Linked DNA regions of Homo sapiens. The protein of the gene in region 1 purifies or fractionates together with the protein of each later gene. This does not show direct contact. Each region holds a gene or a part of one and is shown on either strand. Other genes may lie near its edges. The genes, in order: LNP1, TRPC4AP, GAN, PM20D2 and NUDT12.

What was found.
Region 2: the proteins of LNP1 (region 1) and TRPC4AP purify together in Homo sapiens (affinity purification with mass spectrometry; one large-scale study listed by BioGRID and IntAct). This does not show direct contact.
Region 3: the proteins of LNP1 (region 1) and GAN purify together in Homo sapiens (affinity purification with mass spectrometry; one large-scale study listed by BioGRID and IntAct). This does not show direct contact.
Region 4: the proteins of LNP1 (region 1) and PM20D2 purify together in Homo sapiens (affinity purification with mass spectrometry; one large-scale study listed by BioGRID and IntAct). This does not show direct contact.
Region 5: the proteins of LNP1 (region 1) and NUDT12 purify together in Homo sapiens (affinity purification with mass spectrometry; one large-scale study listed by BioGRID and IntAct). This does not show direct contact.

The regions. Positions count from the first base shown.
Region 1 is NC_000003.12:100,403,554-100,408,719, reverse strand, and holds part of LNP1 (leukemia NUP98 fusion partner 1), read right to left. Parts: intron 1-5,166.
Region 2 is NC_000020.11:35,039,611-35,044,776, reverse strand, and holds part of TRPC4AP (short transient receptor potential channel 4-associated protein), read left to right. Parts: intron 1-64; coding exon 65-272; intron 273-5,166. UniProt on the Homo sapiens protein: Substrate-recognition component of a DCX (DDB1-CUL4-X-box) E3 ubiquitin-protein ligase complex required for cell cycle control.
Region 3 is NC_000016.10:81,351,733-81,356,898, forward strand, and holds part of GAN (gigaxonin), read left to right. Parts: intron 1-2,672; coding exon 2,673-3,023; intron 3,024-5,052; coding exon 5,053-5,166. UniProt on the Homo sapiens protein: Probable cytoskeletal component that directly or indirectly plays an important role in neurofilament architecture.
Region 4 is NC_000006.12:89,155,352-89,160,517, reverse strand, and holds part of PM20D2 (xaa-Arg dipeptidase), read right to left. Parts: intron 2,194-5,166; coding exon 2,058-2,193; intron 1-2,057. UniProt on the Homo sapiens protein: Catalyzes the peptide bond hydrolysis in dipeptides having basic amino acids lysine, ornithine or arginine at C-terminus. Postulated to function in a metabolite repair mechanism by eliminating alternate dipeptide by-products formed during carnosine synthesis.
Region 5 is NC_000005.10:103,549,855-103,553,737, forward strand, and holds part of NUDT12 (NAD-capped RNA hydrolase NUDT12), read right to left. Parts: intron 2,563-3,883; coding exon 2,363-2,562; intron 1,118-2,362; coding exon 1,007-1,117; 3' UTR 1-1,006. UniProt on the Homo sapiens protein: mRNA decapping enzyme that specifically removes the nicotinamide adenine dinucleotide (NAD) cap from a subset of mRNAs by hydrolyzing the diphosphate linkage to produce nicotinamide mononucleotide (NMN) and 5' monophosphate mRNA.

The DNA.
Region 1 (5,166 bases):
TGTCACAGTAAAACTCAGCACTGGGTAGACCCCCCCATGACCCATGACTTCAGGCCAGTAACTGCAGACTGAGACTCTAGACCCATCCCGGCAGCAGATGGGAAACCATAGCCCCTGTGAGACAAACTTGAGTTCCAGCCCACATCACCATCAGCCAACTACAGTGGTCTTGGGATCCAAATAACCCACAGCAACAGGCAGGCCCCCTCAGTGGCTGCAAGCTTCAGATGTACCCCAGTGCTGCAGTAGCCTCAGCAGCTGTGGGCTTTGGGTGCACCCAAGTGCTGCACCAGCCTCAGCAGCCACAGGATTCCATCCCAGTGCTAAGTCAGCTTCAGTGACTACGGGATTTCAGCGTGGCACTGTGCTGGTCACAGTAGGGAGTACATAGCACTCCCTAGAGCTGGAAGGGCTGCAGTGGTCACAGGCTCGGAGACCACACCAAATGACCTGCCTAGAATCTCTGGACAGGCTTACTGTTAGAGGATGTTCCCAGACAAAGCCAGATTGTGAGGGCTGGAATAAGTAACTGCTTCTTGAATGCACACACACTGACACATGACCACAAGAACAATCGGGGAATCATGACATCACTAAACAGACAAAATAAGATGCCAGTCATAGACCCTAAAGACACAGATATATCAACTATCTGCCAAGGAATTCAAAACAGCTGTTTTAAAGAAGCTCAAAGAACTTCAGAAAATACAGAGAAACAAGTCAACAAAATTAGGAAAATAATAAATGGTCAGATGAGAAATTTACCAGATAAATTGAAATAATAAAATCAGACCAATTTTGGAGCTGAAAAATACAATGAATGTAAAAATGTAATAGAGAGCATCAAGAGCAGGATTGATCAATCAGAAAAAGAATCTGTAAACTTGAAGACAGGTTATATGAAAATATACAGAGGAGAAGAAAGGAAAAAGAGTGGAAAGGAATAAAGAAACTTTATAGGGTTTATGGGATAGTATCAAAAGAGCAAATACGCAAATTACCAGCATTCAAGAGGGAGTAGAGAAAGATAAGGGTGTAAAAGGCTTATTTAAAGCAGTAATAGCAGAAAACTTCCCAAACCTGGAGAAATATATAAATAGCCAGGTACAGGAAGGTCAAAGATTTGCAATTAGATTCAATCCAAATAAGACTATCACAAGACATATTATAATCAAACTCTACAGATCTAAGACAAAGACAGGATCCTAAAAGCAGCAAGACAAAAAAAGCAAGTAACATATACGGCAGTTCCAATATGCCTAGCAGCAGATTTCTCAACAGAAATCTTACAGGCCAGGGAAGAGTGGTATGATATAGTCAAAGTGCTAAAGGAAAAAAAAGACTGTCAATCAAGAATACTGTACTCAGCAAAACTGTCATTCAGAAATGAACATGAGATAAAGACTTTCCTAGTCACACAAAATCTGAGGGAGTTCATCACCACCAGACCTGTCTTACAAGAAATGCTAAAGGGTGTTCTTCAAGCTGAAAGGACACTAATGATAAACACAGAAACATCTGAAAGTATAAAACTCCCTGGCAAAAATACGTACATAGCTAAATTTAATTTATAATACTCTGATACTGTAATGGTAGCATTTAAATACTGTAATGAGGGTGTGTAAATCACGTATCTTTAGTAGGGCTAAAAGATAAAAGTATTAAAATTAATAACTACAGCAACTTGTTGATGGATATGCAATATAAAAATACTTAAATTGTGAAATTGAAAGCACAAAATATTGAGGAAAGGAAGTGGAGTTAAAGTGTAGTTTGCATGTGTATGTGTAAATAATCAAAGTTAACTTGTTATCAGTCTAAAATAACCTGTAATATCTATGTTTTTTGAAGCAAAAACCGACAATAGATACACTAAAAATAAAAATCAGCCAGGCGAAGTGGCTCATGCCTGTAATCCCAGCACTTTGGGAGGCTGAGGCAGGCGGATCATGAGGCCAGGAGTTTAAGACCAGCCTGGCCAACATGGCAAAACCCCGTCTCTACTAAAAATACAAAAATTAGCCAGGCATGGTGGCGGGCACCTGTAATTCCAGCTACTTGGGAGGCTGAGGCAGGAGAATCGCTTGAACCCGGGAGGCGGAGGTTGCAGTGAGCCGAGATCATGCCATTGCACTCCAGCCTGGGCAACAAGAGCAAGACTCCATCTCAAAAAATAAAAATAAAAAAATAAAAATCAAGCAATCAAAAACACCACCACAGACACATTTATAATGTTTAAACAAGTATCTGGGTATCCCATGGCCCAGTCAAATTGACACATGAAATTACCCATCACACCACCTATATTCTGGGCTCTGGCTGTACAAAATGAACAGTTTCTGTCCTCGTGGGGCTTACATCCTATTGAGGGGATCACACTATTTTTTTATTTTTCCCACAGACAAGTGTACACCTGAGAGGTTTTTTTTTTCTTGAGGCGGCATCTCACTCTGTCACCCAGGCTGGAGTATAATAGGGTAATCTCGGCTCACTGCAACCTCCGCCTCTGGGGTTCAAGCGATTCTCCTGCCTCAGCCTCCTGAGTAGCTGGGATTACAGGCATGTGCCACCATGCCCGGCTAATTTTTGTATTTTTAGTAGAGACAGGGTTTCACCATGTTGGTCAGCCTGATCTTGAACTCCTGACCTCAGGTGATCCACCCGCTTCGGCCTCCCAAAGTGTTGGGATTACAGGCACAAGCCACTGCACCCGGCCCACATAGGTAATTTCTAATAGTGCTAGGTGCTAATATCGTAGACCAAAGAAAGAGAAGAGGTGTATGAAGGGAGGCATGGGTGGGCAGAAATGTTGAACTTTATAGTGAAAGTGAAGAGGATTTAAAAGTCTTTCAGCTCAAGAGTGAAATTACAGTTATGCTATAGGAAGAGTAAATTGATATCAAGGTGCAGGGTGACACATAGAAGAGAGGCACTAGAGGCAGAGAAATTATCTGGGAAGCAAGCAAATATAGGATTTAGGCAAGATGAAGGAAATGAATAAAAGAGAAAAAAGAGGGGAATGTAATAGTATTAGGAGTTGAGGCCTTTGGGAAGTGATTAGATCATGAGGATGGAGCCCTTAAAAATAGGATGAGTGCCCCTATAAAAATGAGACTCCAGAGAACTTTCTTGCCCCTTTCCACTATTTGAGGACACAAACCAAATTTGCAGTCCTCAACCCAGAATAGGGCTCTTACAGAATTTGACCATGCTGGCACACTGATCTCAAACCCCCATCCTCAGGAATTGTGAGAAATAAATTTCTATAGTTTATTAGCTAAGTAGTTTTATGATATTTTTGTTATAGCAGCCTGTACTAAGATGGGAAGAAACTATTTATTGAGTATCTGTTATGTGTTATACATACTCTTAGGAGTTTTCACTTATATGAACTAAGAAGTGTCAGAATGGGTGAAAAAACTATAAGAAAGATATTACAACAAAGTTGAATTTGTTGAAGACTTCACAGCTGATTTTGTGTTTATGTGTGTATATAAATACAACAGCATAATCATTTGTGCTTGGGTAGGTAAGGATGAAAAAGAGAGAGGTCTAAAAAGGTCTATGGTTTCAAATATGAGTAACTGCTAAGGTAATAGTGGTATTATTAGAAAAAATGGATAACACAGGCTGGGTACAGTAGCTCATGCCTGTAATCCCAGCACTTTGAGAGGCCGAGGCGGGCGGATCACGAGGTCAGAAGATCGAGACCATCCTGGCTAACACGGTGAAACCCCGTCTCTACTAAAAATACAAAAAATTATCCAGGTGTGGTGGCGGGCGCCAGTAGTCCCAGCTACTCGGGAGGCTGAGACAAGAGAATCGCTTGAACCCAGGAGGCAGAGGTTGCAGTAAGCCGAGATCACACCACTGCACTCCAGCCTGGGCAACAGAGCGAAATTCCATCTTGGAAAAAAAAAAAAAAAAAGGATAACACAAAGAGAAAGAATGAGTGGGGAAAATGATGAGTTATATTTTTGACAAAAGTCAGGAATCCAAGCAAAACTGCTCAGTAAGTAGTAAGAAATATAGGGCTAGAGGTAAAAAGGGAAGCTATGCCAAAAGATATATAGACAGTGATTATCTGCACAGAAATGGTACCTGAAGCAATGAGATTTACTTTGGTTACTAATGGAGAGATTGAAGATAAAGAAGAAGACATATTCTAATAAATTCCTCACTTGAGGAATATCTAGAGCTGTGCTGTCCAATATGGTAGTCATTAGCCACATGATACTACTTAAATCAATTAAATAATGAAAACTGTAGTCTTTGTCACACTACATTTCAAGTGCTCAATAGCCACATGTGGCTAGTGGCTACCATATTGGACATCATAAATATAAATCATTTCCAGCATCATAGAAAGCTGTGATGGACAGCACTGATCTAGAGTTTGGTCAGAGCGTAGAAGAACCAGAAGACTCTATTCTCCTGAAGCCAAGGAAAAGAACATTTCAAGGAGAGAATAATCAGTGGTATCAAGTAAAAGTGGGTGACAGCCAACCTCCCCCACCCACAAAAAAACCACAATGAATTTTATGACTTCTAAAGCACTTTCAGCCTAATTATAAAGTTGTAAACTAGATTACAACAGATTTTGGATGAAATGGGTGCCAAATAAGTAACAGATGTAGACAATTCTTTTCAGTAATTTTTCAGTAAGGAAAAACAGAATGAAAACATCAGACAGCTGAAAGAGAATAGAGCTGTTCTATATGTACATGCTTAATATAAGCAGATTTGTGCACTGGCTGGAAGGTTTGGACACCAGTCAACCAGCTATTTACCAACTCTAGCAATCTGAAAGGCCTTTCATGTAGCAATGACAATTGAAGGGACAGAATTACATCATTTTAAAACAATAAGGAGCCTTAAAAATAATCTAATCCACCCCTCCTCACATTATAAAGAAAGCAGAGTTGCCCATGGTCACACACACAACTCAGTGGTATTAAAATTTAGAATAAGAATTCAGGTCAGCTGGGCATGGTGGCTTATGCCTGTATTCCCAGCACTTTGGGAGGCCGAGGCAGGTAGATCACCTGAGGTCAGGAGTTCAAGACCAGCTTGGCCAATATACAAAAAATTAGCCTGGCATGGTAGCAGCCGCCTATAATCCCAGCTACTGGGACGCTGAGGGAGGAGAATTGCTTGAAGCCTGCA
Region 2 (5,166 bases), on another chromosome or scaffold:
AGAGGCACATCCAATCTCTTGAGTGAATTGAGCATGGGGATTGTTTCATTTTTGTCTTCTGTAGGAAATGATCCGACTAGATGAAGTCCCCAATCTGAGTTCCTTAGTATCCAATTTCGATCAGCAGCAGCTCGCTAATTTCTGCCGGATTCTGGCTGTCACCATTTCAGAGATGGATACAGGGAATGATGACAAGCACACGCTTCTTGCCAAAAATGCTCAACAGAAGAAGAGCTTGAGTTTGGGGCCTTCTGCAGCTGAAATCAATCAAGGTAAAGTCTCCAAGTTCTCAGAATTTTGAGATTATAGCTCTGAGGCCCTTACTAAATCATCTAGTTTTTTTTCTTTTTCTTTTCTTTTCTTTTTTTTTTTTTTTCCTTTTTTGAGATGGGATCGTCACTATGTCACCCAGGCAGGAGTGCAGTGGCACAATCGTGGCTCACTGCAGCCTTGACCTCCCCAGGCTCAGGTGATCCTCCCACCTCAGCCACCTGAGTAGCTGGAACTATAGGCAGGTGCCACCACACCGGGCTAATTTTTGTATTTTTTGTAGAGATGGGGTTTCGCCATGTTGCCCAGGCTGGTCTTGACTTCCTGGTCTCAAGTGATCCACCCACCTCATCTTCCCGAAGTGCTAGAATTACAGGTGTGAGCCACCACACCTAGCACCCCTTTTAAATATCTCTAGAGATGGATCCATGTGAAGGCTCCTAGTATGTAAATTTTGTGTATCTGTTCATTATTTTGGGAACTGAGTTCCATACCTTTCATTAGATTTGTTAATGGGCTCAGAACCACAAAAAAAGTTAAGAACTACTTTTTATCAGAATTACAAATGCATATACTTTTTGATCTACTAAGTCTCTCCTGGGCCTTCATTTTATAGATAATGATGTATAGACACTAATCTCCTCTTGTCTGCAGTTTCACTTTCTGTGGTTTCAGTTATCCGTGGTCAACTGCAATCCGAAAATATTAACTGAAAAATTCCAGAGAGAGACCACATTCGTATAACTCTTATTACAGCATCTTGTTACAATTGTTCTATTTTATCATTAGTTATTGTTAATCTCTTAGTGTACCTAATTTATAAATTAAGCTTTATCATAGTTATGTGTGTATATAAGAAAAAACATAGTATATATAGGGTTTGGTGCTATCTGCCATTTCAGGTATCCACTGTGAGGGTCTTGACTAAGGGAGGACTACTGTACAAGATTATTCACTGAGGCCAGGCACGGTGGCTTAACGCCTGTAATCCCAGCACTTTGGGAGGCCGAGGCAGGAGGATCACTTGAGGTTCAGAGTTTGAGACCAGCCTGGCCAACATGGCGAAACCCCATCTCTACTAAAAATACAAAAATTAGCTGGGTGTGGTGGTGCACGCCTGTAGTCCCAGTTACTCAGAAGGCTGAGGCAGGATAATTGCTTGAACCCAGGAGGCAGAGGTTGCTGTGAGCCCAGATTGCACCACTGCACTTCAGCCTGGGCGACATAATTAGACTCCGTCTCAAAAAAAAAAAAAAAAATTATTCATTGCAACATTATTTGTAATAACAAAAGACTAGAAACCCAGATGTTCATTAACACTGGACTGCTTAGTGTATTCAATATTTATATAATGGAAAATTGTGTAGCTTTGAAAAAATGAAGATCTCTATGTACTGCTATAGAAAAATCTCCAAGATATATTAATGATAAAGAGGAAAATACAGAACAGTGTGTATATGGTATAGTTTTTGTATTAAGTCAGGGGGAGAATAAGACCATACGTTTGCCCACATATATGGTATGCCTAAAGAAACAAAGGGTACACAAGAAACATAAAGTGGTTATTAATAGGAAGTAGCTGGTAAGGGAAGGTAGTAGCAGTGGGAGTGGGACTCCTTACTGTATACTTTCATATATTGTTTGATTTTAGAACCGTGTAAATATATTACTTAAAAACAAAACACTATTCTAACCAATCTAGCCCACCTATTTCTGTTCAGTAGCAAAAGAACTGTGTTCTATCTAAAATGTTGTTGCCTGCACAGATTTTGGAGAAACTGGCATAGATGTATTTTGGTCATAAGAGTGTAGATAATTCATATTTGAACTGAAACTTGTGTCTTAAAAGCTAGTTTTTCAATGTTAACAGGCTGGAAATATTGTTAATACAAAAACCTATCACTGTGTACCTTATGGTACACCAAATAAACAAGGTAAAATTATACAAATGTATCATTAAAAAGCAGCAGTAGAAAACCATGACCATGCAGAGGTAGCCCTAATCATGCTCTGAAAACAGTTCTTTGTTTCTAAAGTCCAGTTGTGTGCATTCCCCAGGCTGGCTCTGCAGAGTTATCAAGTGCTTCAGAGCAGCCTCCTCTCCTGAGGCTGAATATGAACCTGCCATTCACTCTGTTATTGTCTAGTTTTAGTTAGGAACATGAGGTGATCATAACTATACTTTGTAGGTTATTAGGGAATATAATTTTACATGTTGTAGTCATATGTAAAGGTAGAAGTTTGTGGACTCCAACCCCAGTTTATTCTCTCTCTAGATTTGCTTTTCCTCCTGTGTCACTAGATACAAGGTCTTCCTTGGTCTGTGTACGGTTTTCTTCCCACTCCTTTATGATTTTGGGGGAGTTCTCATTTTAGGAAATTTACATTTTTAAAAAATATGTGACTTTCCAACATGGCACATATATACATATGTAACAAACCTGCACGTTGTGCACATGTACCCTAGAACTTAAAGTATAATTTTAAAAAAAGTGACTTTCATTATAACTAAATTATACCTCAGAGCTGGTGTACACACCTCCATATACATTGACAAAAGGTAGTATTTGCTAAGCTCCTGGTATGTGGCAAACGCTGGGTAACTGCTTTACCTAGAAGTGATTTTATTTAATCCTTCAAGTGCCCTGTGGAATAGAGATTAGTATCCCCATTGCACATGTGAGGAAACTGAGGGCTAGAAAGGTTCTGTATTGGATGCCTGTGTATGCCGAGGCACTAAGTAACTTTCATCTTTTAGTTTCCCATTTAAGGAATCTATTCTGGCAGATGATTTTGATCCTGTTAGTATTGATTGCTTTCAGATGCCTATTTGTAAACTGACTTAAGTAAAACCAGCATTACCCATTATTCTTGAGGAATGAACTGTTCTGGTCAGCTGGGCTTTTTTGATTAACTGAGAACGGAAAGCCCAGTTTTTGTTTTTGTTTTTTTATTTGGGAGTTTTTTCTTAAAGTCTCTATAAAATAATCTAGATTCACTTTCATATCTGTGTGACTAGCCTAGTAGACAGTCTATGTGTGATTCTGCTTGTAGCTTTTGGGATAAAGCCTAAAAGTTGTAGTTCCACACATGAGGTTGTGCAGGATCTGACCCTTCCCAACCCTGACCATAATTCCTACTCCATTCCCTTACCCGCACGATTTTCTCCATTCAAATGCCCTGGGAAGGCCAAGCTGGTGGACATAATTAAATCACGAGTGGATGAGGAAAGTCTTAGTCCTCTGAATGTTATCATTCTTGAATTGCGCTCCAGTAGTGAATGCCTTTATCTCAGGTGTGTGTATCAGTCAGCTTGAGCTGCCATAACAAGGTACCGTAGACTAGGTGGCTTAACTAACAGACATTTATTTTTCTCACAGTTCTGGAGGCTAGAAGTCCAAGATCAAGGTGCTGTCAGGATTGGTTCCTGGTTGAGGCCTTTCTTCCTGGCTTGTAGAAGGCCACCTTTTTATTGTATCCACATATGAATTTTCCTCTCTGTCATTGAGGAGAGACGGAGATCTCTGGTGTCTCTTCCTCTTCTTAGAAGGACACCAGTCCTCTCGGTTTAGGGCCCCACACTTTGTAACCTCATTTAACCTTAATTACTTCCCTGTATTAGGCAGCAGTCTCCAGAGAGACAGAAGCAGTAGGATTTATGAGGTGGGATTTGTTAGGGGAATTGGCTCACACGATCACAGGCGGAGGAGTCCCATGATAAGCCATCTGCGACAAAAATTAGCTGGGCATGGTGACACGCCTGTAATCCCAACAACCTGGGAGGCTGAAGCAGGAGAATTGCTTGAACCCAGGAGGCAGAGGTTGCAGTGAGCTGAGATTGTGCCATTGCACTCCAGCCTGGGCAACGAGTGAAACTCCGTCTCCAAAAATAAATAAATAAAATAAAAGATAAGCCGTCTGCAAGCTGGAGAACCTGAGAAGCCATTAGCATGGCTCAGTCCAAGTCCGGAAAACTTAGAACCAGGAAAGCTAATGGTGTAGCTCCCCGGCTGGAGGACCCCAGAAACTGCTGGTGCAAGTCTCAGAGACCAAAAGCCAAAGATCCTGGAGTCTGATATCCAAGAGCAGTAGGAGAAAAACTTCCCACTCCAGAAGGGGGAGAATCCCTTTTTGTTTTCCTCCATCGCCTCCCACTGCTCCCCCACCAATTGGATGGTGCCTGCCCACATTGAGGGCAGATTTTCCCTTAGTTCACACACTCATACACCAATCTCTTCTGGAATCACCTTCACAGACACACCCAGAAACAGTGCTGTGCCAGCCATGTAGGCATCCCATAGTCCAGTCAAGTTGACAGCTAAAATTAACCATCACACCACCGCATTCCCTAAAGGGCCTGTTTCAAAACGCAGTCATATTTAGGGCTAGAGCTTCAACGTATGAATTTGTGGGGGCGCGGGGGGTGGGGACACAGTCCATAACTGTATGGAAAGCTGAAATATGTAGGATGTTGCCAAAAAGTTTTCGTTTCGTTTTTAATAAACTGTGGCTGTGAGGTCATTTTCTTGTCTAGCAAAAATAATGATTTACACTATCTTCCTGGGGCTCAGATAATTTACATGTAATTATCTAATGTAAATTATCTGAGCCCCAGGAAGATAGCGTAAGTCATTATTTTTTGAGATTCATTTTAAAATAAATAATTATTTTTTGAGTCCTTTTTGAGATTCTCAGAACTACCAGTTGTTCTTCTGTCGATTTAGAAGAGAACAGCTGGTTTCCTTCTGGGGGAAAGTAACGTCTTTCAAGATTCTTAGCAGAGATGTAAATGAAGCTATAGGCTAGATAATTGTCAATTTATAAGTGACACTTAGCTGAGAGGGGCTGAATTATGCAGCACATGAAGCTGGAAAGCAGGAGGGGAAACTACAGGAG
Region 3 (5,166 bases), on another chromosome or scaffold:
GAGGCTTCTCAAGCTCAGGGTGAGGGTCTCCTTTCATCCATTATATGACAAAGTAGCACTGTCATCTTCATCTTCTGTCACTGTGTGCATTGACTGACATTTCCTACTGGTAATGGCACCCCATGTGTGTTCTTCCATGGCTGTGCTCCTAGAGAAGCAGAGGAAGTAAGATCTTAGACTCAAATCTCAGTTTGTTGCTACCATTCTGAGCTCCACCTTCTCATATGAGATATTAAAGAACATGGGATGCTGCCCTGACTGCTGTGTTTTTGGTTTTTGCTTTGGAATCCCGATTCCAGTCTTGCTTTGTATCCATATGACTGGGGATACAAAACTTGTTTTGTCTCCATAGCATGGAAATAGGAACTTCCTGGGGCGTTGTGGATTATTTGGTAGAAATAGAGAGTTCCTTGTAGATCATTCCCAGAGAAAGATGACTGACAGACATGACAAGCACCTTATTCACGATGCCCTGGTCCTGTTGCCTCAGTAGTACCCACATCCCTGCCCCACCCTTATTCTCTCTTCCCTCTCCATGTCCACTTGAACCTCTGGGGACTTTGTGATACCCAGGGAGGAGAATGATAAACGATCAGACTTCTTTCTTTTCCTTTGCCCTCCTCCGACTACCCATTCCCCATGACGTGATTTCAAGCAAAGCATGAGGACTCAAGAAAAATCTTCCGTGTGAATCAGGGCTAGTTTTTTGTTTTGTTTTTTTAACAGAAGGAAGAGGTCAGTGCATCTTACCTTTGGCTGTGTGAGAATGCATTTCATCTTTATTCTTTCTGAGATCTTGTTCCCTACTCTCTCCTTTATTCTTTCTTTATCCCTCTTGTTTTCCTTTCTGTAGGGGCTGTTTGTCTTACATATTTTCTAAGTATTCTGAATGTATTGCTTTCTTTATCTAAATATATTCATTCTGTCCAGAGTTAAACGCAGTGATTCTCATCCTTTTTGAAGGTTTTGGTTTGATTTCATGCTTTCTCTCTTCTCTCAGCACTAGTGGGTGGGTGTGTACGTGTATGATTGTTAAAAGTAAATGAATTTAAGTTAATCTGGGGACAGCCCAGAGATGCTCTGTAGCATCACATAACCAGGGCTAAGACCAACCTCTCCTCCACCTTGTAAAGTCAATCCAGCAGCAGTTATTAGTATAATGAGTTATAAGCCAGTAAGAGCCTATTCATGTTCAGGCTTGGATTTGAAAGTTGAAACATTATTTACAGATTGAGTTCTGTGATTTGTTCCCAATTTAAATTTAAAACGATAGTTGGGGCCGGGCGCGGTGGCTCACGCCTGTAATCCCAGCACTTTGGGAGGCCGAGGCGGGTGGATCACGAGGTCAGGAGATCGAGACCATCCTGGCTAACACGGTGAAACCCCGTCTCTACTAAAAATACAAAAAATTAGCCGGGCGAGGTGGCGGGCGCCTGTAGTCCCGGCTACTCGGGAGGCTGAGGCAGGAGAATGGCGTGAACCCCAGGGGGCGGAGCCTGCAGTGAGCCGAGATTGCGCCACTGCACTCCAGCGTGGGCGACAGAGCGAGACTCCGTCTCAAAAAAAAAAAAAAACGATAGTTGGAATGTAAGTTATAACAAACTCCTGAATTGGCAGTTTTGTTTTATTGAAATGCAGTTGAGTGTTTTTTTCACGTGCCTATATTTGAAGAGTCTACAGCTGCCTGCTGTCTTGTGGCTAAATATAATGTCATATAAATGGAACATTTTCCCCTACTTGTGGCTTACTCACCATACTACTTTCCACATTTTTGTTGCTCAGTTTCTAAGATGATTGGCAATTATACTTTTTTAAAAATCTGTGGTACAAAAAGTGTAAAATGTAAAAATGTTTCTTGCTATACTCCTCATGAAGTCTCCCTTGCATTTGCGAATGTGGGTGAAGTGCCCATGCTTTGGGGTCGTCCACTTAGGACTGTGGCAATATTTTAGAGAACTGTTTCTTTCCTGATGCTTTGGAGCACTGTGAAGTCAGTGGAGGAAGAAGCATTAGTCAGAAAATTGAAGAAAATTAAGGAAAAGTAGATGTTCATAATGAGAAAAAAAAAACACCCTTGTATTAGGGATTTATTCCAAAAAGTAGTTTTGAGACCTAAGTGTATCTGTCTGTGTACCAAATTGCACTGCGTACAGTGTTTTGGGATGCGGAATGAGGCTTCTGAAACACTGGAAACCCCTCTCCCTTCAAGGGGTTAGCATTCAGGTTGGCATGCCATTTAGCGGAAGAGTGAACTTCATAGGTGGGGAGGCAAGATTTTCATCAGTTCTGATGCTGGTACTTAATCATGTTGACTTTACCATAGAATGTAGAACTTTCCATTTCCCAAGCATTTGAGTCATTAAGGTTTTTCTCTGAATTACAGAAGTGAACAACATGGACAGTTCACCCTAAAAGGGTTATTGGTGGTTGACATTGGTACAGCAAGGGCAGAGCTGGGAAAAGTTAACCAAGCACACATTTGCTTATGTTGGTGCCTTCCAACTCTTGGAAAAAAAAAAAAAAATGCTGGGTTAAACCATATGAAATTGCCAATATTCGATTATCTTTGATCTAAAATAAATGGAAATTTCATGTGGCCCCAATTAATAGGTTAGTGGTTTGGGTTTTAAATGTACACATTCAAATATAAGATAATTATGCTACTTTTTTAGATCAGGCTAAATGAAGATACAATCCAAGATGTTGTTCAGGCAGCTGACCTGCTGCTACTGACGGACCTTAAAACCCTGTGCTGTGAGTTTTTGGAAGGCTGCATTGCTGCTGAGAACTGTATTGGTATCCGTGACTTTGCACTACATTACTGCCTCCATCACGTTCATTACCTTGCCACAGAATACCTGGAGACTCATTTCCGAGACGTCAGCAGCACGGAAGAATTCTTAGAGCTGAGTCCTCAAAAGCTTAAAGAAGTGATTTCTCTTGAGAAGTTAAACGTTGGCAATGAAAGATATGTCTTTGAAGCAGTAATTCGATGGATAGCACATGATACAGAAATAAGAAAGGTACCTGTCATTTATAACATGGTCAAATTTGCCTTTTTATTTCTTTTTAATTCAAATTTTAGTTGTTTTATTTTTCTTCTTCATCATGAAAGACTTACGATGCAGCAATCTAAAAGATACCTGTAAAACATGTTCCCCTATATCATGAAAGCAGTTGGTTTTTCAGACCAGTCTGCAAAAGCCCATGCCACACAATATATCAGTGAAAATATTAGCCCTTGTAAGGAGCGTAATATCCTTTGTATGTTGTTTTTAATGGGAAAATGCATTTCAAGCTTAAGCTGGAGATTATAGAAACGCAGTATCCCCACCCTTGCTCTCAGCATCCTGACCTACTATATCACTAGGCTAACCTCTGCCAGGCCTCAGGTGCCTGCAGCAGGCAGGGGGGTGGCACGTGGATCGATGGCAGGGGTGGAGGGGCATGGGCCTGAGGAGCTTCAGGTGTGATTGACACCACGCAGGAGAAAGCAGGCAGGCTCTGGAGTTTGTGTGGCAGTGCAGTTTCAAGAGGGAAGGTTCTGGGAGTGAAGGTCTTAAAGAATATCAGCCTCTAGATCCAAATTGTGAATACCTTGGAGGAAGGAGCAAAATCACAGGACTTGAGGGTTTTGAGGGGGCAGAGAGTCTCAGTCTGTCTCCCAGGCTGAAGGGCAGTAGCCAGAGTGGCACGATCATAGCTCACTGCAGTCCCAACCTTCCTGGCTGAAGTGATCTTCCCACCTCAGCCTCCGAGTAGCTAGGACCACAGGCGTGTGCCACCATGCCTAGCTAATTGTTTGATTTTTGTAGAGACAGGGTCTCGCTGTGCTGCCCAGGCTGGTCTCAAACTCCTGTGCTCAAGCAATCCTCCCACTCTAGCTTCCCAAAGTGCTGGGATTACAAGTGTGAACCACCATGCCCAGCCAGGACTTCATTTTTAAGTCTGATTATTATAAATAAGACACTAGCTCCAATTACTGTTTTCAAAATAAGAAATATATTAGGTGTTAGAGAGTGGATCTCACAATGTATAATTTTACTGTTAATTGTTCTTGTAAGTTAAAACTGGACTGTTAAATTTTGATGATTATCTTATAATTTTTTGAATTCTGTAAGCCCATAAGTATGCATGTTTAGAAACCATATTTGTAGTATTGGTTTTAATTGGGACAGGTAAGGACAGGTAGTGTTCTGCTTTCCATGTTAGTTGGGGAAATTGGTAAAGGAGATAGAAAAATGAGAAAAATTTCCTATGTGCTCCCACTCACCAAGACCACAGTGGGACATGCTGCTCCTTGCCAGCTTCCGTCCTGCCCTCTTCTTGCCTTAAAGCAAGGGAGATGCTTAAGGTTGGCTGGTTGCTGGGAAAACGAGGCAGTTCTTTGTCCTTTGGTCAGTTTAAACTTCATGCTGTAAAGACAGTTGATTTTTAAAACTCACAGTTTTATTTTACATTTATAAAATACTTTCGTCAGTTCAAATTTAGTGATTGAGCAGTAAAAGTGTAAATTCATATTAGTCGTCTTAGATATTTTTGAACAGTAATTACTGCAAAAATGATTATATAGTACTCAGGTTTTTTTTTAAACTTTGGCTTTTGTATATTTTTCTTGTATTATTAATGTTGATGTCTAAGTTTACCATATTGTATTGAGCTATTACTGTATATAATATTTGTATAAACATGATTTAACTCATGGCACATCCAAATGTGTGAAATAAAGCAAATTATAGCTGGTTCTTTTCCTGTCTTTTCCTATTGAAATGGGAATCCTTTAAGGTGTAAAGGAAGCTGCTTGAAACTTTTACAGTGATACCTCAAATAAACTGATGATTTTTAAAAATTAAACTTTTACTTATCAAGACTCTGGGAAGTAGACAGTTAGGGCCAGGAGAAGATATTCAAGCAGCACGAGTGTGTCTCACTTGCCTGGTAATAACCTGAGTGTTAACAGTTTGTTTTCCATGAGGTGGAAAATGTAGATTCTAAAAATGATGTGTTGCATTTTCCATTGTTTTCGCCCCATCTTTCTTCCCTCTTCTGCAGGTCCACATGAAGGATGTTATGTCAGCTCTGTGGGTTTCAGGGTTGGACTCCAGTTATTTACGGGAACAGATGCTGAATGAACCATTAGTACGAGAAATTGTCAAAGAGTGTAGC
Region 4 (5,166 bases), on another chromosome or scaffold:
ACATGTCAAACACCATGCAGGCAAAGTGAGACTACACAGTGATTGGTAAGAGAATAAAGGAATATGTGACAAAGAGTAGCTAACATTTATCTGGAATACTACGTTCCAAACACAATCCTAAGTGCTTTGTATGTATTCTCATTAATATTTAGAACAGTTTCCATTTTAAACATGAAGAAACCAAGGCTTATGGGTATTAAATAACATGCCGATAGTCTCACAGCTGCTAGTTATGTGGTAAATGCAGACTGAGGCCAGACTTTGAGGCATAGTAGCCTCTATAGAAGTACTGCTTCAGAAAATATTCACTAAGCACTTAACTGTGCCAGAAACGGCTCCACACACTGAGGATGCACAGTAATGGGACATCAGTGAACAGGATGGAAAAAGCCTCTCCAGTGTTTAAAGAGTCTAAAGAGTCTGAGTGTAAAAACAAAACAAAACAAAAAAGGATGGACAAAAAAAAACCTGTTGCATATTTTAAGATCTTACTTGTGGAACTAGACCCTAGAGCCCACAAATCATACCAAAATCACAGCCACTTTATCCTACTGTTTTGTCCATTATATAAAACCCAAACCCGGGGTAGAGCAGGCCATGTGTCTTCCCTTCTTCAGCTAGACAGCAGAAACCTGCTAGGGTAAAAGAACAGAACCATGCTGAGCTGAGCTTTCTTGCTGTCCAGAACAAAAGAAAACATGAAACTCTGATGTCCCTGGACAACTCCTCTCAGTGGCAATTCTCTCTCAATCCCTCAGCCCTACCAGCTCAATGCTCACTGTGTGCTACTTCCTAGAGGGAAAGTCTCTGAACTCCCTGACCTCCTTCCTAAACATTACATCTACTTCTCAAGTATCTTCCCTTAAAAACTATTTTCTTTTCCGTATTTCCCTCAAGCTTGTATCCACTCTTTCTATTTTCCTTGAAAGCTAACTCTCTTGAAAAAGAATAGTCTTCATTTGCTACTTCCACTATCTCAGCAGTCAATGCCCTGGGTAGAGAAGTGAGACCCAGCATCTGGTACCACTGGTCTTATACTATTTTCTTCCAGACAATTCATGAATTTCTAATTACTAGAGTCCAGTGGACACTAGACCATATTCATCTTATTCAGTCTCTACAGCACTTGACATGATTTATGCCTCCTTCTCTTCTGTAAGTTTTCTTCTCCCTTGGCTTCCATGACTTCTCCTCTCTCCTGATTGTCTGGCTTTCTCTCTGACCACTTCGTTGACTGCCAATGTCTGATCTCTGGGAATCTTCTTCCTCTATGTATTTGGGCAACCTCATCGACATCTATGTCTTCTATATACCTTTCATATATGGACAACTCCTAAATCTCCAAACTAGACATCTTTTTGGGTTCTAGATTTAACAGGTACTGAACAGCTCCACTTAGAAATACTATAAGCACCTCAAGTTTAACATACTAATAATTTATAACAACCCCCTCTTACCCTAACCTGCTCTTTCTCTTGAACTCCTTATCTTAATGAATGACACCGACACCCCATTTTCACCACCAAGTCCTTTTGGGCCTACTTCAACAACATCTATTTTTAAAACAGATGATACATCTCTAACTTGCAAATGTATTAGTAATAATATGCTTTTAAAAGGAAAAAAAAACTAACATAACCCCAAATATGCTTATTTCAATTCTAGCTGTCTGTTGCTCCTCAGAAACTGAAAATGCCCCAGATAACTAAGTACTTAGTAACCTGCTTATTGTGATGACTGAGAATGAATTAAAATTCTATATCCCACCTTAGCAACTTACTTAAAAATTAAAACTAACGAAACTTAAACACTAGAAAATATTTAGAATACAGACAAAAATGTAGGTTGACTATTTCTAAAATCAAGTCTGCTCGTTTGACATTCTACACTCACTTAAGAGTCCATTAGTTTCTTTCCCCTAACCATAAAGTTTGTGAAAATATTAAAAACGTCAGTAGTACCTCCCGACCTCCCAAACCATTAAATACAACCAATTTAACCAAAGATGGTATTTCTCTTCCTCAAATAGCTCAATATATAAAAAAACACTTAATTACCTGAAGGGCCATTCAACATTGTATCTTCTGAAATGAACTCTATTCCTAGCTTTCTTCCATTTTCCATATAGGCTTTCCATAGGCTCTTATTGGGAAGAACATTGTAATAATCATGTGCTCCACCTTTAATTTCCACCTAATAAAAAATTGCAAAACAAATTTTGAAATAAAAAACTCAAATTCACTATCTAATTTTCAAACCAGTGATTGTTCTCTAATAGGAAGAGGTTTTAAGAGAAGATACTTTCCCTTCCAGATATAAACACTCTCAAATCTCTTACCTTAAAAAAGAAAAAAGATTTATTTTCTATAACGAGAGTTCCTAGGACTCTCTTTTATGCTATATATACACTAAACCCCACAATGTCACCAAGCTCTATACTAGCTACCAAGTGTCAACTTCAGTCACCTAGATAGGGTATGAGAAGGGCCCAGAAATTTTTATTTTATTTTTGAGATGGAGTCTCACTCTGTTGCCCAGGCTGGAGTGCAGTGGTGTGATCTCAGCTCACCACAACCTCCGCCTCCCAGGTTCAAATGATTCTCCTGCCTTAGCCTCCCAAGTAGCTGGGATTACAGGCGCCTGCCACCAAGCCCAGCTAATTGTTTTTGTATTTTAGTAGAGATGGGGTTTTGCCATGTTGGCCAGGCTGGCCTCAAACTCCTGACTTCATGTGATCTGCCCGTCTCGGCCTCCCAAAGTGCTGGGATTACAGGCATGAGCCACTGCACCCAGCCTAATTTTTATTTTAACCAGCACCTCAAAGTAATTCTGACATAGGTGACCCAAAAACCACACTCTGAGGAACACTGCTCTAGGATTCAGTCTCCAAAAAAAAGAAATTAAGCTTTACTAATATTCAATATGCAAACTGACACTGACATCACTGCCTGGTGTGAGAGGTAGAAAAGTACTCTGAGGGAAATGTAGAAGATTTGCAATGAGGAAGGGTTGACAACAGTCCTCATTTATTAATTTCAGTATATAAAGATACGGAAGCAGCTTTTATGTGCCCAGTTAAGTGGATTTACAGATTCAGTTTTGATTAAATAAAAATTGGCAATATTCCCTCAAACCAATATTAGCAAAAGCCAATCATAAAATGGCAGAGATGACATTTCTTTTATTCTTAGCAACATCTACGGTAGAAATTATGACAACCAAATCAGACCTTACAAGTCAGCCAAAATATAAGAAATTACTAAAAGATTATTTAAAATATAGATTTAGGCCAGGCAAGGTGGCTCACACCTGCAATCCCAGAACTTTGGGAGGCCAAAGCACGAGGATCACTTGAGCCCAGGAGTTTGAGACCAGCCTGGGCAACACAGGGAGAGCCTATCTCTACAAAAAACTTTAAAAATAAATAAATTAAATTAAATATAGATTCAAATCCAATAACAACAAACCTTACCATAAGGGAATACTGTATACCTTGAGATATTGCCTAATGATAATAGTTCACATCCATAAGTATTTCACAAATAAATATTTATAATTATAAATGAATAAGGGAATAAATATTTAGTTTTTACTGCCCTCAGCTATGGACATTTCACAGTTTTCATTCACTATAACCATCTTCTCTAGTGGCATATGAGAATACATCTTTGCTCCTACATCTGTCCATATGTTTATCGATTAACTACAACACAACACGAGCTTCTATATTCTTATCTTTGCTGACTATATTCCCTAAGAACTTTCAGTCTCTGTCTTTCCCATGCATATCTGAAAGTATGATCAACCTTCAAAGCTCAGTTCAGGTCTACAGTCTTCCACAAAACCTTCCTCCAAGGTTAACAGCCCCAGACCACTCTTTCCCACCTCTGATCCTCACGACACATTCCACACTACTCTCAGGACACGTAACATATGCTTTCTGAGAATTACTGCTACTGTGAGATACTGCTACTACGTGAATCAATCATACATCTCTAGACTAATAAGAACAGAAAAAAATAAGGCAATATAAATGAAGGCTGGGCTCTAAACCCTTCAGAAACATTATCTCATTTAATTCTCACAAGAATCCTAAGATAAATTGTTATTATCTCCATTTTTCAAGCAAGAAAATGGAGAGCCAAAGACACTAAACATTTCTAAAGGTTACAGAATTAGCTAGGCTGAGAGTTATGGGTCAAGATCTTGTCTCTCCAACTAGACTACAGGCTCCCTCTAGGGCAAGATTCTTATCTTGTATAATTCTAAAACTCACTCCACTTTACACAGTACATGATTTTAAATACTAACTTTATAGTTCAAATCAACAAAACCAGTCAGTGTGGTGGCTCACACCTGTAATTCCAGCACTTTGGGAGGCTGAGGTGGGTGGATCACAAGGTCAGGAGTTCGAGACCAGCCTGGCCAACATGATGAAACCTCGTCTCTACTAAAGATACAAAAAAATAGCTGGGTGTGGAGGCAGGCGCCTGTAATCCCAGCTACTCAGGAGGCTGAGGCAGGAGAATTGTTTGAACCTGGGAGGCAGAGGTTGCAGTGAGCTGAGATTGCGCCATTGCACTCCAGCCTGGGTGACAGGGCAAGACTCCGCCTCAAAAAAAAAAAAGAAAAAAAAAAATTAGCCAGGTGTGGTGGCAAGCGCCTGTAGTCCCAGCTACTTGGAAGGCTGAGGCATAAGAATCGCTTGAACCCAGGAGGCAGAGGAGGTTGCGTTGAGCCAAAATTGCACCACTGCGCTCCAGCCTGGGCAATAGAGCAAGACTTTGTCTCAAAAACAAACAAACAAACAGAAACAAATCAATAAAACCTCTTAACTAACTTCTGTGTCTATTTTATCTTCCATTCCAGCAAGCCATAGTATTTATATCACTACTATACACACCCTAACTTCAGAAATGGCTTTCGCTGGCTGGGCGAGGTGGTTCATGCCTATAATCCCAGCACTTTAGAAGGCCGAGGTGGGTGGATCACTTGAGCTCAGGAGTTTGAGACCAGCCTGGGCAACATGGTGAGACCCTGTCTCCAGAAAAACATACAAAAAATTAGCCACGTGTGGTGGTGCGTGCCTGTAGTCCCAGCTACTCAGCTGGCTGAGGTGGGAGGCAGAGGTGAGAGGATTGCTTCAGCCTGGAAGGCGGAGGTTGT
Region 5 (3,883 bases), on another chromosome or scaffold:
TACTTTGTCAAGGCTTCTTAGAATGTGTTGAAATAAGGTCAAAGCCAAGATATATTTGAGCATAATAAATAGTATTGGTAATGATTATACAATTTTTTGTTAACACAGATACATCACTCATCACAAAATGAAATAAAGCCAATGTTTTAAATTAAATATGTAAATCTGCCTGGGACTTATTTAATATCCGACCTTTGAGGAGAATTCCTTTCAAGTTTAATTTCAGTGCAAAAGCAGAGAATCTTGGTTTGTCTTAATAACAGCTTTAGGTATAAGTAACATATAAGTAGATATGTTAATTAATTTTAGGTCTAAAAGAGAGGTCCCAGATATAATAGTATGCTTTTCTCCTTCCATGAGGGTGTGGTATTGAGATCACTATTAAATTATTAAATTAGAAAATTCTTAACACTGGTCAAATTAGACGAGTGGCGACACTATAACACCTCCACTGCTAGAACAATGGAACCCCCAGGAAAGAGCAAGTGGGACTACAATGGGGAGATGAACAAAAACCATATATTGACAACTTAAAGGTAACAAAAGGACTAAAAAATCAATGCCAGCTAACTCAAGCTAATACAAGCTAAAAATTCATTAAAATTACTTTGATTCATTTCTCAAATCAGGAACTTTCTTCATCATCAGTTTAATGCTTACAAGAGGCACTGAAATTTATGCACATTTCTAGAACATCTTTCCAACATGATGTCTCTTATTAGAAAAATGGTTTTGTGAGATAAAACTGTGAAGGAAGAAAAGAAACCAAGAGAGAAAAAGTTCAGAGAAGACTGACCCAAATTTAACATAATCTGAGGCAATATTGTAAAAATGTGTAAAAATATGAATTTGTGATTAAGACAGAACACTTTGAAAATATTTCGAAAACCCAACATCGTATTTTGTGTTGTGACACTCTCAAGAGTACTGAATAATCTCTAATATCACTTGAGGAATGAGTGTTATTAGAAATTATTAAATAATACTCAAAGCTTAGTTCTTAGATTTAGAGATTAGGATTTATTCTAATCCAGTGTTTGATTAATTGATGTGCAATAGCTCGGCTTGGTGGCACAAAGAATGCCTGCTGCTTCCCTTTGGTCAGAACATCCAGGACCTAAAACACACCATAATAGAATGCATTAGGATTTCAAAGCTGTCATATTTAAATACTATTCCCATGTTTACATAATTCAATTAAAATGTGATGAGTTTTACAGTGAATAACAACAGTAGAAAGTGACAACATCCATATTTACATGCAAAGTTTTTTTTTTTTTGGAAACAAGGTCTTGCACTCTGCCACCCAGACTGGAGTTGCAGTGGTGGGATCATGGCTCATTGCAGCTTTGACTTCCTGGGCTCAGGCGATCCTCCTGCCACAGCCTCCCAAGTAGCTGGTACCATAGGTGCACCTGGCTAACTTTTTAAAAATTATCTGTAGAGACAGGGTCTCCCTATGTTGCCCAGGCTAGTCTCAAACTCCTGGGCTCAATCAAGCTTCCTGCCTTGGCCTTCCAAAGTTCTGGGATTACAGGTATAAGCCACCACGCCCCGCCTCAACATGCAAAATTTAGGACAGCATTTTTAATTGCTTCACTGAGTAAGTGATTCAGTTTCTAAAATGTTCCAGAAAGACACATTCCCTTATGAAAATGACATCACGAAAAAGCAAAATGTACGCTCCACACTTAATTTCTAAGCAAAGCCAACTTTTGAAACAGATTCTTTTTTATAAAATTCATAAGCAATAATCTAATTTCCATCTTTTAGGATTAAGCATAGAATAAAATTAATTTTATGCAGGCAAAGTCAGAAAGAATTTCAGGTCAGATGAGTAATTTATCTTTTAATATATTATTTAGGAATGACATTTTAGAAAGTTATTTTAAGTGTATGTTTATTATACAGTTATGTCATTCTTGTCCTTAAGTACATTTTAAAATGAATAAAAACTTTCTGAAAATTTTAAGCACTTACTGATGTTTTTTGAGAGCTACTTGTTTTAATGTTATAAACTAAAATATAAAATGTATAAGAATATTCCTGTTTCTCATCTATGAATTAATGTTTTTCTAAACCCACTGATAGGTATTATTATTTATGTGAAGGAATGGAATCTGAAACTCGAAATGGTACAGAATCATCTCTACTAGAAAAATCTCATAGAATAAGTTAATATAGATCACATTAGTGAAACATACTCCTCCTGTATGGAATTACTAATTACCATGTAATCCATGCATAATGAGAGGGCCAAAGGCATCATTCAACTTGCTGAAAATATGCATCCTTGCTCTGTGACCAAACCAATACAGTCAGGGAACAATCAATAGAAGAAGGAAATTAAATTGAACTTTACCTGTTCTCTAGTGAACCAGCGGGCATCCTCTATTTCATTCTTGTCAACTTTAATTTCTGTAGACACTGCTAGAGCTAAGCAACCAATCATTAAGGAGGAAGGCATTGGCCATGGTTGACAAGCAACATACTGAACATGGCCAACTTTGACTCCACTTTCCTCTTCTACTTCTCTCCTAACAGCATCTTCTATTGTCTCTCCTAATGAAATGGAGCAAAAGAACAAGTTGCTGATGAACATGCCCGGGACACTTTGTGTCCTGAATGGTTCAAACATCTGGAAATCACTTTGGACAGAAACCCAATGCAAATAATCAGAAAGCAGAAGCCTAAAACTAGACTGTAATTGAAGAAAACAATTTTTTTAAAGTACATGACCACATATAGAATATCAAAATGCCAACAATAAACTTTTCGTTTTTTTAAGGTACAAATTTGTCAGTTACATTTTAAAAATAATGATACCATCTAAAAATATCCAATACCTAATACTGGTTAAACACTATGCAAACACTTTATATCTTATCTCATGTATATATTGTCCACGAAATAGTTATAAATTACATGATTTTTACAAATAGCTCTTTCACACTAAAATTCTGAAACTTTTTTTTATTATGTTGTCAAACAATTATTGCAGGTAACTCTTTTCAGGTCATTACAAGATTACAAACTACATAAGATGAAATTTAATACTTTTTCTAAGCAATTATTTTCCTCTAGATGACTGCTGACTCTGCTATGGTAAGTGATGCCTATAAATGTACTTTATATTTCTAATTTGTTGGAATTAAGAATTAGAATAGGGGAAATTGTTTCTAAGTAAAATCATTTCTAAGTAAAATCTGGAAGTTTAGAAACATTTTGCTAAATATTGCTGTATTTAGCAAAATATATTTTAAATATAGCTTTCTATTTCAAATAGATTGATAAATTTCCTACATGAAAATTAACTTATAATAATCAAAAGAACACATATAGTAAAAATATAATTATAGACTAGTGTAAGGTATTTGCAAAACCATAACTAACAAAAGATTAGCATATGCTACATATTTAAGAATTCTTAAAATGAATAAAAAAGGATAAACAATGAAAACAAAACTAGGTAAAAGATAAACATCTAAAATTCAGAGAAAAGAAAACTGAATGCCTAATACACATTTGAAAAAAGATGTTCCATAGGCAAGAAAATGAAAATGAAAACGAGATACGATTTCATTCACTCCTCAGAATGACAAATTTAAAAGTCTGAAAATCCTAACTTGGTGAAGATGTGGAATAATGGAACATTTCATGTTCTGCTGGAGGAAGTGTAAATTGGCAGAAACACTTCAGAGACAACTTGGCAACATACAGAAAAGGTTAAGATGCTCATAACACATGAGCTGGTCGTACTACTCTATGTATATAACCTAGATAACTCTTGCAAATGTGCACAAGGAGAAGTATAAAAATATTAATTGCAGTGCTGTTTGTAATAAGAACTTTAAAATAAACTAAATGTCCAATCAGCAGAATG